Regions from separate parts of the Homo sapiens genome. Here all the other regions are reported to be linked to region 3. Evidence: microRNA targets listed by miRTarBase, many of them from high-throughput screens and not tested one by one. Region 3 holds a microRNA gene; each other region holds the end of a gene's coding sequence.
The links. The annotated mature microRNA hsa-miR-374c-3p reads CACUUAGCAGGUUGUAUUAUAU and lies in region 3 at 2,512-2,533, opposite strand. An mRNA with a match to its seed (bases 2 to 7 or 8) in the 3' UTR can be bound and repressed. Matches are read on the target gene's strand: a 7mer-m8 pairs with bases 2 to 8, a 7mer-A1 pairs with bases 2 to 7 and ends in A, and an 8mer does both.

Region 1: miRTarBase lists TMEM233 as a target of hsa-miR-374c-3p. Seed matches in the 3' UTR shown: 7mer-A1 at 2,668-2,674.
Region 2: the mRNA of ELP6 is a reported target of hsa-miR-374c-3p. The part of its 3' UTR that is shown has no 7-base or 8-base seed match.
Region 4: the mRNA of TMEM50A is a reported target of hsa-miR-374c-3p. Seed matches in the 3' UTR shown: 7mer-A1 at 2,391-2,397.

The regions. Positions count from the first base shown.
Region 1 is chr12:119,640,078-119,644,077 of GRCh38, forward strand. TMEM233 (transmembrane protein 233) reads left to right here. Exons shown (of 3, transcript NM_001136534.3): 3 at 622-2,998. The coding sequence ends at 628. All of the region lies in intron 1 of PRKAB1-AS1 (PRKAB1, TMEM233 and CCDC60 antisense RNA 1), which reads right to left. Among named protein-coding and RNA genes, the nearest start is that of PRKAB1-AS1, 26 kb to the right of the region's middle.
Region 2 is chr3:47,492,465-47,496,641 of GRCh38, reverse strand. ELP6 (elongator acetyltransferase complex subunit 6) reads left to right here. Exons shown (of 7, transcript NM_001031703.3): 7 at 445-1,002. The coding sequence ends at 573. Among named protein-coding and RNA genes, the nearest start is that of SCAP, 19 kb to the right of the region's middle.
Region 3 is chrX:74,216,900-74,221,119 of GRCh38, reverse strand. MIR374C (microRNA 374c) reads right to left here and starts at 2,571; the gene lies at 2,502-2,571. All of the region lies in intron 5 of FTX (FTX transcript, XIST regulator), which reads left to right. MIR421 (microRNA 421) reads left to right here and starts at 2,659; the gene lies at 2,659-2,743. MIR374B (microRNA 374b) reads left to right here and starts at 2,502; the gene lies at 2,502-2,573.
Region 4 is chr1:25,359,741-25,363,926 of GRCh38, forward strand. It overlaps TMEM50A (transmembrane protein 50A), which reads left to right. Exons shown (of 7, transcript NM_014313.4): 7 at 920-2,621. The coding sequence ends at 965. It overlaps RHCE (Rh blood group CcEe antigens), which reads right to left. Exons shown (of 10, transcript NM_020485.8): 10 at 2,509-2,813. The coding sequence ends at 2,787. Among named protein-coding and RNA genes, the nearest start is that of TMEM50A, 24 kb to the left of the region's middle.

The DNA of each region.
Region 1 (4,000 bases), not on the chromosome of region 3:
TAATCCTTGGGGAGGAGAGTGAGGTTCGGAAATGCTCAAGAGGCATTTTTCCATATCCGCATTTTGTTTGTTGTTGTTGTTTTGTTTTGTTTTTTGAGATGGAGTCTTGCTCAGTCGCCCAGGCTGGAGTGCAGTGGCACAATCTCGGCTCACTGCAAGCTCCGCCTCCCGGGTTCACGCCATTCTCCTGCCTCAGCCTCCCAAGTAGCTGGGACTACAGGCACCCGCCACCACGCCCGGCTAATTTTTTTTGTATTTTTAGTAGAGATGCAGTTTCACCATGTTAGCCAGGATGGTCTCTATCTCCTGACCTCGTGATCCACCCGCCTCAGCCTCCCAAAGTGCTGGGATTACAGGCGTGAGCCACCATGCCTGGCCTGTTTTTGCTTTTGTTTTTTTGCACGTACCACATGTAAGATAAAATAAGTTTTACAAATAGAATATGTTTCTCAAAAGGAAGCCCCTGCTTAGAGTCAAAAGTGTGCACGCAGGCTGGTACATTTCAACATGTGTTTAACCAGAGTCATCATCATCAAATAAGGAAGGCATCGAGCTGGGAAAGCCAACCACAGAAGCTCAGCCCACGGTCTTTCTCTCTCTCTCTCTGTCTGTACCACACAGTGCCTGAGGAACCAGCGGTCAGTGGGCTGTGAGCGTGGAGGATGGACCTCATCCACACACACCCCAAAGGAGTTTCTAAGGAATGGATCCTTGACTTCAGACTGTGAGATCTTTTCCTCCAGGACTCTCCAGAGGCAGGTCCCTGGCAAATGAACAAGAAAAAAAAAAAAAAAAAGTCCAAAATTTAGGCAATCCAAGCTGCACAGCCGGATCAGCCAAAGTCATTGATTTGTAAAAATGAAAAGAAAACAGAAAAAAGAAAAATGAAGTCTCACTGTCTCAGTTTAGCGAATCCCGTTGTGTCCACTCCTGTCCTCCAGAGGCGAGCCTCAGGAAATCACATAACTTTTCACTGAGGGGATCCAGGGGGTCTCCATATAGGGGGAGATGGAGGTTTCTAGGAAGAGCAGCAGGTGCTGGTATTTACAATGTTGAGCACAAACATTTGCAGCATGTTTAAAATTGTCTAGTAGAGTTCAAGTTGTGGATTTGCTTTTCCTTTTATTCTTATAACCTTCAGTAACTCCTCCTCTGGGAGTCAGCACTCCCATGCCCAGAGTTCACCCATCTGGTCATCAAACACTCAAAGAAGGGGCTTTTCTGGCCTTTTGTCTTGATGCTTATATTTCCAAATAGGCCCCCTCCCTTGCTTGCATCCACGTTGGTCAACTTGACCAAAACCTCACTCTTCACTCAAACAGGCTCTGAGAATGGACTTAGTGGCCAATTCTAGGTACATGAGCACTTCCTGTATCCCAGTTTTGGGAATAAACTGGCTGTATTTATAGAATGTGCTTTTTTTTTTTCAATTTCTCACTCTCTCTCCTATCTCTAGCAAGTCTCAGGCAAGATCTTTGATTTTCCTGGATGCCACCTGGAAATGCCACCCATTGTGTTTCTTTTCTGTCAAATGTAAACCCTTTAGATGTGAATGTACTGGTTTAATGATGCCATTATTCTGCCTGCCAGAACGCAGTAACCCAGTGTCTCACAGAGCACAAGGGGTGTGCCACTGGTGGTACACAAGATAATTTTTAAGTAGTTTCTAGGAACAACATTAAGTAATACCAAATCACAAAGAATGTTTCCCCTTTTCTATTCTTTTTTCATCCTGATTACAGCAAGGAAAAAGTCTCTGTTTAGTGCTAGCAGGTCCTTTACACCTTTCAGACACTATGGCTCTTTTCCCTTTTTAGCAAAGAAAGAGCAGGCCTCAGAGTCTTCTGTCTAGATAGAATTTAATGATATTGTTTTGTGTCATGGTATTTATTTTATTTATTACCTTCCATTTACAGCTTCCCACAGTGGGGGATGTGACATATTGTTTCTGTTCAAATAAATTAAGAAAAACAAGAGAACTCAAGAAAATATCAAGTAATTAACACACCAGATAAGTATATGTGGCAAAAGTCACTTCAAAGAATTAATGTCAGAAAGATGGTGATAATGAAGCAAAAGAAAGGCAGATTATGCTGGCCGGGCGTGGTGGCTCACGCCTGTAATCCCAGCAATTTGAGAGGCTGAGATCACTTAAGGTCAGGAGTTTGAGACCAGCCTGACCAACATGGTGAAACTCCATCTCTACTAAAAATACAAAAATTAGCCAGGCGTGGTGGTGCATGCCTGTAATCCCAGCTAATAGAGAGGCTGAGGCAGGAGAATCACTTGAATCCAGAAGGCGGAGGTTGCCGTGAGCTGAGACTGTGCCACTACACTCCAGCCCGGGGTGACAGAGCAAGACTCCATCTCAAAAAAAAAAGAAAAGAAAACGAAAGAAAAAGAAAAAAGAAAGGCAGATTATTCTAATTGAATGAATAAGAGGCTGAGAGTCAATACCTAGTTCCAACGCCCTTTTGTTTTTGCAGGGTTTTTATTGGCCACTAACTAGCTATGCAAGCTGATTTTAGGCAAGTTTCATAGCCTCTCTGTGCCTAAAATTCCTTCACCTGCAAAATGGGGATAAGAATGCCTGCCTACTTACCTCACAGTGCTGTTATGAGAATTAATTGTTGTAATAGTTGTGACTAACCATTGGCGGGGAGAATTCTAAGTACTATACCAATACAAATTTCAGCATTTTTTCATATACTGAACCCTAGCAAAAAAAAAAAAAATTCTGATGAACATCAGATTCAACCTGTCATTTTACCCGGATGTTGTGATGAGCCAGCACTTGTCCCAGGAGGACGTTGAATCAGGGACACGAAATCTCAGCACACAGAGATTCTAGCATCATTCCAATAGATTGGACCCTGATTTCTGTTTCTGACATCCTGTTTTTTGTTTGTGCGTGTTTGGGTCCCTGGTCTTTTACCCAAATCAAATGAAAAGTGTTGCTCAGAGGCAGAATAAAAATGGTTTTAAGTAAGCCTGTGTACCACAGTGTGTGAATTGTGTTTTCTTGGGGTTCCCCACCTTCCAGAGATTTCCGTAACCAAAATAAGCTCATCTAGTCCAGCATCAGTCCCCAGGGAAGAGCCCAGAGAGGCCAGAGGTGGCGCTAGAGAGGCATCACTCTGAACTAATTTATGGCCAGAAATGTCCCTCTATGAGGCACTGAAAATGTTGGTCCTATTAAAGTAAAAAAATAAAATAAGAAAAATCTTGTCATTAAATGTGCTCCTTGGGGTCAAGAGGGCCACTGATTTTTGTTGGGCGTCCCCCAGGTCCTAAGCTCTAAGAAGGACAAAATGGTTTTTGTTGGGATGATGGGCTTGTCCAGAGCTTCCTCCAAAGCTAAGACTGCCCCTGCTCCACTCGCAAAAGCACAGTTTAAAAAGAGATTGGTGGCCGGGCGCGGTGGCTCACGCCTGTAATCCCAGCACTTCGGGAGGCCGAGGCAGGTGGATCATAAAGTCAGGCTAGCGAGACCATCCTGGCTAACACAGTGAAACCCAGTCTCTACTAAAAATACAAAAAATTAGCCGGGCGTGGTGGCGGGCGCCTGTAGTCCCAGCTACTCGGGAGGCTGAGGCAGGAGAATCGCTTGAATCCGGGAGGCGGAGGTTGCAGTGAGCCGAGATCATGCCACTGCACTCCAGCCTGGGCGACAGAGTGAGATTCCGTATCAAAAAAAAAAAAAAGGTGTATTATCAACCAAGAGACTCCTTCATCAGCCAGTTACAAAAACTGGCTAAATAGAGCAGAAAAAGTAGAGTTTACCCTCACAAGACGGAAACTTCCAGGGATAGCTTCAGAGGCAGCTGGATCCTGGTGCGCAGGGTTTTTGGGAACGTGTCCCTTTCCAGGTCTCAGCCCCAACTTGCTGAGTTCATTTTAGTTTAATAGGGACAATACGACTGCCAACAGCTTTGGACTTTTTCCTACCAGCCTGTGGAAAGACAGTGTTTCTTCCCTAATAGCTCCAGGGGGGAAAAAT
Region 2 (4,177 bases), not on the chromosome of region 3:
GCACCCATAATCCAGCTACTTGGGAGGCTGAAGCAGGAGAATTGCCTGAACCTAGGAGGCAGAGGTTGCAGTAAGCCAAGATTGCGCCACTGCACTCCAGCCTGGGCAACAGAGTGAGACTCTGCTTCAAAAAAAAAAAAAAAAAACATAAAAATACTTTAAGGGTCTTCCTCTGAAAGACTTTTTCCTTCTGTTTCCTTTTTTTTTCCTCTTTCACATTTTCTGTATTGAGCCAATATGACTACTGTAATGGAGGGGAACCCTTTATTTGTAGTTAGCTGGTGATAGGCTTTATTTTACAAGTTGGCCCCATTACCAGATGGCACATCTGACTATCATCTCATAGAGGCCTCAGCTGAAGGGCACAGAGAAGGTAGGGTGGGGTTCCCAGTGGAGCAGGTCCTGGGGTGGCTGCTCCTCTTTCATTCTTCTCTGTCTCTGTAGCTGAGGATCCTGTGGAGGAGACCATCGCAGCCCGCAGTCCACCGGGATCAGAGCTTCACTTACCAGTATAAGATACAGGACAAAAGCGTGTCCTTTTTTGCCAAAGGAATGTCTCCTGCTGTTCTGTGACCTGATTTCGGAGCAGCTGAAGCTACATAGGACTGTTTTTGGACGTGGAAGATAGAGCAACATAGCAAGAATGGGTCTTTCTCCTCTGTAGTAATATTTCAGGCTGGACCGGCGACTCCACTGTGACCAGAGGGTTGAGTGCTGCAGTGATGGCATGCCTTGGCTGCCCTGGGCCCTGTTCAGAAAACACAAGGGACCACAATCCTGCCTTTGCTGAGAGAGAGGCTGGATGCTAGACCCAAGTGAAAGGGGTCCTTTGGAGCCTTTGTTTAAATATGCCTTAGCCCCAGCTGCCCATTTTTGGTTGACAAGCCTTTCAGAGCCAGAGTGGGTATAGATGTGCCAGCCAGGAGATGGCACCGGATGGCAGGTGTGCAAGGTGACAACTAGGATAATCATGGCTGGAATAAAGTAAGTTTCCACACTGGAGCTTCCTGTGGGTTGTCTTGTTCAATTTCCATCCTGGAAAGGTACTTTCCCTTTCCCTATGAGTTCAGCGAGGAAACAGACCTAGAGAGGTTTGGAAGCACACAGGCTGCACAGCAGGCTGTAAGTAACTGTGCCTCACTCCACAGTCCACACTTGCTGACTGACAGTCATGGAACCCAGAGGCCAGCTCCCCACCCAAAGGTGGGGACCTTTGGCTTCTCCAGTTTCTGTGGTGCCTTGCCTTTATGCCAACAAATCCTAGCCATCAAGGGCCTGGCACCAGGGCCTTGGCCACATGAGGCCCTGTGTAGGCGCAGGTGTGTATGGTCTTGGTGAGAGGGGTAAGGGATGTTCTTGCTGCCAGGCGGATCAGGCCTTGGCGAGTTGCTGGTGCCTCCCTCACCTGTGAAGACTGCAGGAGGTGGGCTCTTGCCCCGCATCCTGTAGATGACAACTAGTCCCACTCAGCCCCTCAGTTGAGGTCACCTCAGAGTAGACACCAGGTGTATTCTCTTAAAATGGCTGCTTTTTTGGTATATAAATTATATTACAATGAATTTTATCTTAAAGAAAATGAAAAAATAATACTATTTTGCTGTATACTAAGGAACTTACATAGCTGTTATTTTCTTTTCTTTTCTTTTCTTTTTTTGAGACAGTCTTGCTCTGTCACCCAGGCTGGAGTGCAGTGGCCCGATCTCGGCTCACTGCAAGCTCCGCCTCCCGGGTTCATGCCATTCTCCTGCCTCAGCCTCCTAAGTAGCTGGGACTACAGGCACCTGCCACCATGCCCGGCTAATTTTTTGTATTTTTAGTAGAGACGGGGTTTCACCGTGCTAGCCAGGATGGTCTTGATCTCCTGACCTCATGATCCGCCTGCCTTGGCCTCCCAAAGTGCTAGGATTACAGGCATGTGAGCCACCATGCCTGGCCTTTTTTTTTTTTTTTTTTTTTTTTTTTTTGAGATGGAGTCTTGCTTTGTCACCCAGGCTGGAGTGCAGTGGTGGCATGATCTTGGCTCACCACAACCTCCGCCTCCCGGGTTCAAGCTATTCTCCTGCCTCACCCTCCCAAGTAGCTGGGATTACAGGCACGTGCCACTGTGCCCAGCTAATTTTTGTATTTTTAGTAGAGATGGGGTTTTGCCATATTGGCTAGGCTCGTCTTGAACTCCTGACCTCAGGTGATCTGCCTGCCTTGGCCTCCCAAAGTGCTGGGATTACAGGCATGAGTCACCATGCCCAGCCTCTTTTCTTTGTTTTGAGACATGGTCTCTCTCTGTTGCTCAGGCTGGACTGCAGTGGTGTGGTTATAGCTCACTGCAGCCTCGACTCTCTGGGCTCAAGGGCTCTTCCCACTTCAGTCTCCCAAGTAGCTGGGATTACAGGTGCGTGTCACCACGCCCAGCTCATATCTGTTGTTTAATTTTAACTTTTTGGATTTTTAGTCTTTAGGAAAAATTTATCACACTTCTCTTCAAATCATACCATTGTGTATGTTATCCGTCTGAAACAGTAAGCTGCTTTTATTCTCAAAATACTGTAGACCTGATAGAATATTTGAAAGTTATGAGTGCAATTAAGAGAAAGTAGTTATTAAAGAATCTAATGATTCTTTGACTAAGACTTCATTATTTATGCAAACTTCGTTTGAGCTACGATTTTGAATGGGCAAGGCACCATTTTTTACATGACATAAATGTTGCTATCATGTTTCTTCACTTAGTTTATAGATGTTTTCACTATTTTTTTTGAGACAGGTTCTCTCTGTTGCCTAGGCTGGAGTGCAGTGTGGCACTTCTTAGTTCACGTGAATTCCAAGTGATCCTCCCCTACCTCAGCATTCTGAGTAGCTGGTACTACAGGTGCCCACCACCATGCCTGGCTGTTTTTAATTTTTTTGTAGAAACGGGGTGTCACTTTGCTGCCCAGGGTAGTCTTGAACTCCTGGGCTCAAGAGATCCTCCCGTCTCAGCCTCCCCTTAAATATTTTATGTTTAATAGCTATTGAGGGCGGGGCACAGTGGCTCACGCCTGTAATCCCAGTACTTTGGGAAGCCAAGGCGGGTGGATCACCTGAGGTCAGGAGTTCAAGAGCAGCCTGGCCAATATGGTGAAACCCTATCTCTACTAAAAATACAAAAATTAGCTGGGCGTGGTGGTGGGCACCTGTAATCCCAGCTACTTGGGAGGCTGAGGCAGGAGAATCACTTGAACCCAGGAGGCGGAGGTTGCAGTGAGCCGAGAATGCACCATTGTGCTCTAGCCTGGGCAACAAGAGCAAAACTCAGTCTCAAAAAAAAAAGCTATTCAGCATTTTATGCTATCATTATATTCTAGTTTGTTTAGTTATCCTCTGGGCATGTAGATTCTGGTTTTTACAGTTATCAATTATGCTGTTATAAATTTTATATACTCTACCTATTGCGGGTGGGGATAAGTACTTGTTTGTTTAGAACCTGACAAACCAGGTCACTGGCAGAGCTCATAGAACTTACGTTCTGGAAGAGAAGACAGGCAATCAACAGAATCGACAAAGGACATATTTAACTTAGACCACAATAAGTGCTATAAATAAACCAGCACAGGGGCCTGTGAGAAGTGAGGGGTGATGACATTTTAGTCCATACCCTCTAATGGAATTATTGAATTACAGCAGAAACTGGCCCTGGCACATTATCAGGTTGTTCTTCAGAATGATGGAGCCAGTTGACAATGATGCAGAGATTTTGCTCTGTCAACTTTGGGTTTAACTTATTTTTAATTAATTTAATAGTGGTGGTTGTGTGAGAATGGACTAATACAGGGGTAGAAAAACAGGATCATAAGGTGTGATATGGTCCATAAAAATGATTCTAGTGTGAAATGGACATTTCTTTAATCACTAGCATATAATTTTCTCTGTATTTTTCCGTGTGTACAGAATCTGTTCCTTATCCTTGCTTACTTATCAATTAAAACCTGGTGTTGGTCGGGCATGGTGGCTCATGCCTGTAATCCCAGCACTTTGGGAGGCTGAGGCAGGCAGATCACTTGAGTCCAGGATTTTATTTTTATTTATTTATTTATTTTGAGACAGAGTCTTGCCCTGTTGCCCAGGCTGGAGTGCAGTGGCGCAATCTTGGCTCACTGCAACCTCCACCTCCCGGGTTCAAGCGATTCTTCTACTTCAGCCT
Region 3 (4,220 bases):
TGCCAGGCACTGTGCTGGGTAGTGGGGATATGGAGATGAATTAGACACCATCCCCGTCCTCAAGGAGTTCTCAGTCTAGTGAGAGAGATCAACATCTATGTACACATATAATTACAACAATATGGTATGCTCTACAATGGAGGTATGTATAAGATACTCTGGAGTTCAAAGAGAAATCATTTTACAGAGTCTGGAGATGACAGAGCTCAGAGTACCTGGTATATGAGTTGAGTCTTTAAAGAAGTAAAGTCACCTTTTGACTAGGTGAAAAACAGGGAAAGGCTTTCCAAGCAAAAGCATGGACATTGGAAGTAGTATGATGAGTTTGGGGAACTACAAATAGTTCTCTAAATTAGGTTGGAAATGTAGGCCAGGAATAGAACTTTATATGGTATGCCATGGGATTTGGATTTCATTATAAGTGTTTTCAGAAAGGGATGCTTTTAGATGATCACTGGCAGTAGTGTGGGGTGTGTTCAGGAATGTTTTCAAATCTGGACAGGGAGATGAGTTAGAAGGATACTGTGGTGGCTAAGATGAGAAATGATGTAGGGCTGAAAGGAGTGGGAGTGGCGAAGAGGGGATAACCTCTTAGGAAGTTATAAAAATTTAGTCATGCATTGCTTAGCAATGGGGATATGTTCTGAGAAGTGTATTGTTAGGCGATTTTGTCATGTGAACTTCATAGAGTATATTAACACAAACCTCTCTAAATGGTATAGCCTATTACACACCTAGGCTACAAACCTGTACAGCATATGACTGTACTGAATACTGTAGGCAATTATAACAGAATGGTAAGTATTTGTGTACCTAAACATATATAAACATAGAAAAGCTACAGTAAAAATATGATATGATTTTGTGGTGGGACAACTGTGGGACAACTGTCATATATGAGGTTCATCATTGTCCTAAACATTGTTAGGCAGCACATGACTGTATAGACATAATAGAACTTATAGGAAAAGTTATAGAAAAACTTATAGAAAAAGACCTTGATGAAAAATACTGTCATATTCTTTGGATGAATGTTGCAATTAACTCCTTTTAGATCATAACTTGACTGTACAGATTGTGCAAGATTGTTTTCTGGGAACAGCTGTATATGAAATGTTGATTCTCAGGGAGACACCTAGACACCTGAATTGCAGCAGACATTTTATGGTGTTGCTAAGTTGCTGGTCCTTCTCATCAGTAGCAGGCCTACTCTCACTGTCACATATCTCCCACGGTTTTTTTTTTTTTTTTTTTTTTTTTTTTTGTAATTAACCAAAAGTGAAGGCTTTTATATCAAAGACTCAATTGAGGAAGCAGTGGCCTTAGTCATTATTGGCATAATTGCTTTAGTTTGCTTATGGATCTTAAAACGTTTATGACTATATCTGCAAGTAAAAAAAAAATTCAATAATTAAAAACCTAAACATATCGAGTGTTTATTTTCTCTTTTTGCAAAGGTATATTCTAAACTCAATGTTCTTCGGGAAATTTTCCAATTAAGGCTCTGAGTATTGATATTTGGGATTTAGAGAATGGCTTTCTATGACCAGAATGGTTAGTGATGAGATTTTATGTAAGTAGGACTGGGTTTTTCAGGGGGCCTTGTGTAACTTGCCATCAAGAGTTGGGAAAGGAGGCCCTGAGCAGTGCAGCAGAGCTATGTAAAGTGAGAGTTTGGGTCTTGGGACCAGGTAGCCTGGGCTCAAATCTGCTCTCACACTTAGCAATGTGGTCTTGAGCATGATTCTTCACTTCCCCAGGACTCTGTTTTCTCTTATGTAAAATAGGAATAATATTTATTTTCAATGATGGGGGTAAAAAGTACTTAAAGGGACTAATTATGTAAATTGCTTAGAACAGGCCTGGAATATACAGCTAAATGCTGTGTCAACTGTTGTTGCTGATAATGGTGTTGACTATGACAAGTATTAAAAGAAGAGATTTGACTAGAGGTACTTATATTTTGAATGATCAGTGACGATGTTAGGGTTGAGAAAGAAAAACAGTAACTGACTTGAAGGTTTTCAATGGTATGTAAGTGTGAGGTCATTTCACCTTTTATTTCTCTGCCAGGTAGAGTGGGAAACCAAATTAATCACTCCATGATCTAGTGACTAATCTATTGCCTTTGCTTTTAGTTCCAAATAGAAAGCTGTTGAAAAGTTGTTGTATTACACCTGCATAAAGGTTATCCTGAAAACAGAAAAATGCATTAGACTTTGTCAAAACTGGATTTGAAACCTAATTCAACTGCTTGCTGGCTGTGTGACTTAAACTTGTTGAACTTCAGTTTCTTCCTCTAATATAACTATTAATTTTCAGAGTTTCCATGAAGATATTTGTAAAGTGTTTGTCATAGGCACTCTATACATTAATTACAGCTATTATTGTTAGATCTTGGGACACCCAGCACGTGACAAAAACAACAGCAGACCCTGGTGCCTGGGAGGACTTCATGGATCCAGCAGCAACCTGGAGTGGTGCTCCTCTGAAGAAATCCTACTCGGATGGATATAATACAACCTGCTAAGTGTCCTAGCACTTAGCAGGTTGTATTATCATTGTCCGTGTCTATGGCTCTCGTCTACCAGACTTTAAATTCCTTAAGGGCAAGGACAGTGCCTTACTCATCTTTGTATTCACAGTGCCTAATCCGGTGCACATTGTAGGCCTCATTAAATGTTTGTTGAATGAAAAAATGAATCATCAACAGACATTAATTGGGCGCCTGCTCTGTGATCTCCATGGGCTCAGCTTGTCCCCGCCAGTTGCCAACAACGTCCAAGCTCTCTTCAGAATGCTTACTCCTGAAGCTTATTCCTGTCTTCTAATTCTTTTGTTGAGGACTTTTCTGTGTAGTGCAATGATAGCAAATACACTTCATCTCAAGTACCATCTCCAATTGATTGATAATGCCTGCCCTGATTATGTTTTATAACAAGATTCTGAAACCAGGTCTTATCTCAGTGTGAAAGACATTTATAACTATTTAGTGATGTCTGCTGAGGGTCGGAGAAGGGGGAGTAGCAGCACAAGTGCCTCATATGTCATATTTGCTACTCTGTTTTCTATGAAATACTTCATTTCTATGCCTGCATTTTGGTCTTAGCTACTTGCTGATGTTGCATGGCTGTTGCTGCTACTGTAATTGCTGCTAATTGCTCCCTGGGTTGGACCAGAGTGCTCATTGTCTGAACAGAAACCTCATCCTCACAGTCTGAGGTTTGCTCCTGTGGCTGATATTTAAAGTTTTCCCCTTTCAACTTTACTCCAGCTATCCCCTTACCTGCACTGACAGGTAATCCTCCACCGTCCTGTTCACCTCTCACCAGGTTCATATTTTCTTTATCTTATTTATTGTACTTAATCATTATTTTGTGAGAAGCTTTTCTGATTGTAGATGTGACAACCAGAATACAAGTTAAAACCACTTATCCAGCGCCTTACAGTGAATCATTTAACATGAGAAAAAAATTGAGTGTGTTTGCAGACCATGGGGCAGAAGGAATTGAGAAGGGAGTCATTGTAGATGTGAGAAAGAGAGAGATGATAATAGATGGAAGATGATCTTGAAAGATGATGCAGGTGAAGCTGGAAGGGTGAAATTTATGGCTCTAGAACACATGCAGGTGGAGGGTTAGCCTTAGGTAAGTGGAACTACCTCTTTGCTGGAGCACAGAGATAGGGATAGGAGTAAGGAAGAGGACTTGGCAAGGGTGGTGAAGATTTGTAATTGTAGAGGTGGATGATGGGGAGGAAGCTGACCAGGAACAGGAATATGAAGACAAAAGCTGCTGGAACAGAAATACTAGAGGGCTAAATATGAACCAGAGTCCCTAAGGAATATTCAGGCCAAAACGCTGGAGTGAGACCATTAACAGGAGAGCTTATGGTATATCAAAGTAAGAAATGAGTTTGAAACTGGGTTAGAAGCTCAGGAAAATATGAAGTGGTTTTGGGGCATTGTCACTAGCAGTATTTGGTTGCCTTGATTGATTGAGGGGTGGACAGCTAGCAAGAGACGAGTTACACAGAAATGGATTTAAGAATCCAAACTAAGGCCGGGCGCGGTGGCCCACACCTGTAATCACAGCACTTTGGAAGGCCAAGGTGGGCAGGTCACCTGAGGTCAGGAGTTCGAGACCAGCCTGACCAACATGGTGAAACCCTGTCTCTACTAAAAATGCAAAAATTAGCCAGGTGTGGTGGCACATGCCTGT
Region 4 (4,186 bases), not on the chromosome of region 3:
TCCTGTCCCCGAAACACCTGCCTTCATCATCCCGCTAGGTCTTGTTCCTACCAATCTCCCATTCAAACCCCTGTTTTTCCACAAAAGCCCATCTCACATATTACCACCTCTGTAAATCCTTTTCTAACTTATTCAGGGTGACCGAATTCTGTGTTTCTGTGCCCCCTTAATACTTGTTATATAAGTCTCCTTCCCCAACCACCCCCACACTTACCACATCACGTTAGCAAGAATGAGAGCAATTTGAGGGCAGTGGCTTTGTATCTTATTTATAGCCCTGGCACCAAAACAGTTTGTTGAATGAATTTGATAAAATCAGACGTATAGGGCTGGGCACAGTGGCTCACGCCTGTAATCCCAGCACTTTGGGAGGCCGAGGTAGGCGGATCACGAGGTCAGGAGATCGAGACCATCTTGGCTACCATGGTGAAACCCCATCTCTACTAAAAATACAAAAAATTAGCCGGGTATGGTGGCGGGTGCCTGTAGTCCCAGCTACTCAGGAGGCAGAGGCAGGAGAATGGCATGAACCCGGGAGGCAGAGCTTGCAGTGAGCCGAGATCACGCCACTGCACTCCAGCCTGGGCGACAGAGCAAGACTCTGTCTCAAAAAAAAAAAAAAAAATCAGACATATAATGGTTACATAGTAAACACTGGTAACTTTTTAAAAGTCACATGTGTATTCAGTACTTGAAAGTTAAGGTTGTTGGGAATATGGTGGTTAATAGCACAGTTGAACATAATGGAAGAATTCACTACCTTAGAATGATCAGTTTCTGTTTTGATACATTTCGTACCAAAATTTCTTCTACAACTCATCAATTATTCTTCGTTGTTTGTTTCACACCATTCTCGAAATCTCACATACTCTTTTCTCAAATTCAGGGAGTCATGTGATATTTCTTGTTTTATTCACAGAGGGCTGGTTTTTAAGTTTGGCCGCACTGAAGACTTATGGCAGTGAACACATCTGATTTCCCACAGCACAACAGCCCTGCATGGGTTTGTTTGTTTTTTTACTGCTCACTCCCAACCTTTTGTAATGCCATTTTCTAAACTTATTTCTGAGTGTAGTCTCAGCTTAAAGTTGTGTAATACTAAAATCACGAGAACACCTAAACAACAACCAAAAATCTATTGTGGTATGCACTTGATTAACTTATAAAATGTTAGAGGAAACTTTCACATGAATAATTTTTGTCAAATTTTATCATGGTATAATTTGTAAAAATAAAAAGAAATTACAAAAGAAATTATGGATTTGTCAATGTAAGTATTTGTCATATCTGAGGTCCAAAACCACAATGAAAGTGCTCTGAAGATTTAATGTGTTTATTCAAATGTGGTCTCTTCTGTGTCAAATGTTAAATGAAATATAAACATTTTTTAGTTTTTAAAATATTCCGTGGTCAAAATTCTTCCTCACTATAATTGGTATTTACTTTTACCAAAAATTCTGTGAACATGTAATGTAACTGGCTTTTGAGGGTCTCCCAAGGGGTGAGTGGACGTGTTGGAAGAGAGAAGCACCATGGTCCAGCCACCAGGCTCCCTGTGTCCCTTCCATGGGAAGGTCTTCCGCTGTGCCTCTCATTCCAAGGGCAGGAAGATGTGACTCAGCCATGACACGTGGTTCTGGTGGGATGCACAGTCACTCCACATCCACCATTGAAGGAAAGGAAAAAAGGGCAGAGACTTGACACTCCAGTCTTAGACAGGGGACAATTTCTTTGTAGTTGTTCTGATAATAAACTGGGTTCCATGTTGCATTTCATCTGTGTACTGAACCACTAGCCTAATAGACCAGCACGGTCAACTAGAATGACAAACATTAGCTACTGGGAACTCTTGTTGTCTCTTCCTCTTCAGAACTCTTGTCCCCCCAGGCTCCCCACCTCTGCAAGATGGGATACACTCTTCAGGACCACAGTTTGAAATGTCTTTCATAAAATGTGCTACAATTAGCCTTCGGAATATTTGCTGGGTGATTTAAATGTGTGGGTCTCATTTCCATGCTAGCCATGGTCATCTGACAGTCTCTACACTGTGAATATTGCCTGGTGATCAAGACTCTCCTCAAAGAAATGACTTGCTGTCATCCCACATGAACTCCTGATGTTTTTTCTACAAAAGTCCATAAAATGTGAAAACTGGAGAAGATCTTAGAGGTTGAAGCCCACCTTCTCTTTTCACATAGGAGGGAACAGACCATGGAAATTTAAACGACTTCCTCACGGTCACAGAACTAGTTTTTTAATCCTCAGGCAGTGCATCCCCCCACCCTACAACTGAGCACAACCTCTTTCCCCACAGTGCAATTCAGAATATGCTCAGGGAATGCCAGCCACCTTGTAAAACTGCTGGGAGAAAAGCATGATTCCCACAAGGACTAAGTATCAGTGATTTGTAATTTTCCTGTTTTGTATTATCTGCTTTGCTGATGTAGACAAGAGTTAACTGAGTAGCATGCTTTATTAAGCATGAGAAAGAATCTTAAGAATTGTCAATAAAATTAACCCAAAACTTTAATAATGTGTCTGTAACCAAGAAAATATTGATAGCATCATCCTAATGAAACTAAACATTTATTTTAAACTTATTAAATTGACTCTTAAACTAAGTTTTTAGTCTTTAATTTTTTAATATCAAATCTGTCTCTGACCTTGTTTCATTATACATAAGGAGACTTTGCTGTCATGAGCGTTTCTCACGTACAAATGCAGGCAACAGTGAGAGGAAGTTGTCTTGTTTTTGAACAGGCCTTGTTTTTCTTGGATGCTTTTGCTTAAAATCCAACAGCCAAATGAGGAAACTGTAAAAGCAAAACAAACATTTTTATTGCAGATGAACCCACATACTGATTTTGGCTTGATCTCTTGAAACAGCCTAAATGTCTCATTACAAAGACCTTAGAAATTCTTTCATAAAATCTGAATTGGAAGAGATCTTGGATATATAGGTTTTATTTCATCTAACGTTTTACATGGATTGTTGATAAATGGCCATCTGGCTTTTATTTGAATGCCTCCAAAGACAGAGGACTCACTACTGCCATATGAAGTAGCTCATTCCATTTGGCAGACAGTTGAGATTGTTAGAAATTTATACTGCACCTCCCCTGGGCCTAGTTAAATTCTTTGGAGAAGTGTAGAGAAAAAGTATTTTTCTTCTACATGCCAGTTTTTTTTTTGGTTTTGTTTGGTTGGTTGTTTGTTTTGTTTGAGATGGAGTTTCGCTCTTGTCTCAGGCTGGAGTGCAGTGATGCAATCTCAGCTCACTGCAACCTCTGCCTCCCGGGTTCAAGCAATTCTGCCTCAACCACCGGAGTAGCTGGGATTACAGGCACCCGCCACCATGCCCAGCTAATGTTTGTATTTTTTAGTAGAGACGGGGTTTCACCTTGTTGGTCAGGCTGGTATCAAACTCCCAAACTCAGGTGATCCACCCGCCTCGACCTCCAAAACTGCTGGGATTACAGGCGTGAGTCACTGCGCCCGGCCTACATGCCGGTCTTTCAAGTGTTCGAAGAGCCTTCTTAGGTCTCCTCTGGCCTTCTCTTCTGCAAGCTGTGCATGCGCTGAGTTCTGAAGTGGTGCCACACCACAGCCTACCATACAACGTCACTGCATGTGGCATAAACTGGGACCACAGAACTCTGAAACCGGAAATCAGGGTAGCTAACACTTGTTTGCTAACATTTCACATACATTATCTCCTTTAAACCCTAACAACACAGTGAGACAGTTACTGTTATCTCCATGTCAGATGACGAGACTGAAGCTACAAGATCACAGAGCTGGCAGTGGTAGAACCCAGATCTGTCTGACTCCAGAGCACAAACTCTTAGAACATGGGATTTGATCTCATTTTATAGAGGAAGAAACTGAGCCCCAGAGAAGCGACCTGCCCAAGGGCACCAGCCTGCCAGTGGGTGAACTAGGACTAGAATTCAGATCTGCCTCCCAGAACACTGGCCCTCACCGAGGCTAGGGGAGTCTGTTGGCAGGCTGCTGATGTGTTTTCCTAGTTTACTTTTTTTTTTCTTTTTTTTAATATATATATTTTTTGAGACAGAGTCTCCTCACTCTGTTGCCCAGGCTGGAGTGTAGTGGCAAGATCTCAGCTCACTGCAACCTCCCCCCAGGGGTTCAAGTAATTCTGCCTCAGCTTCCCAAGTAGCTGGGA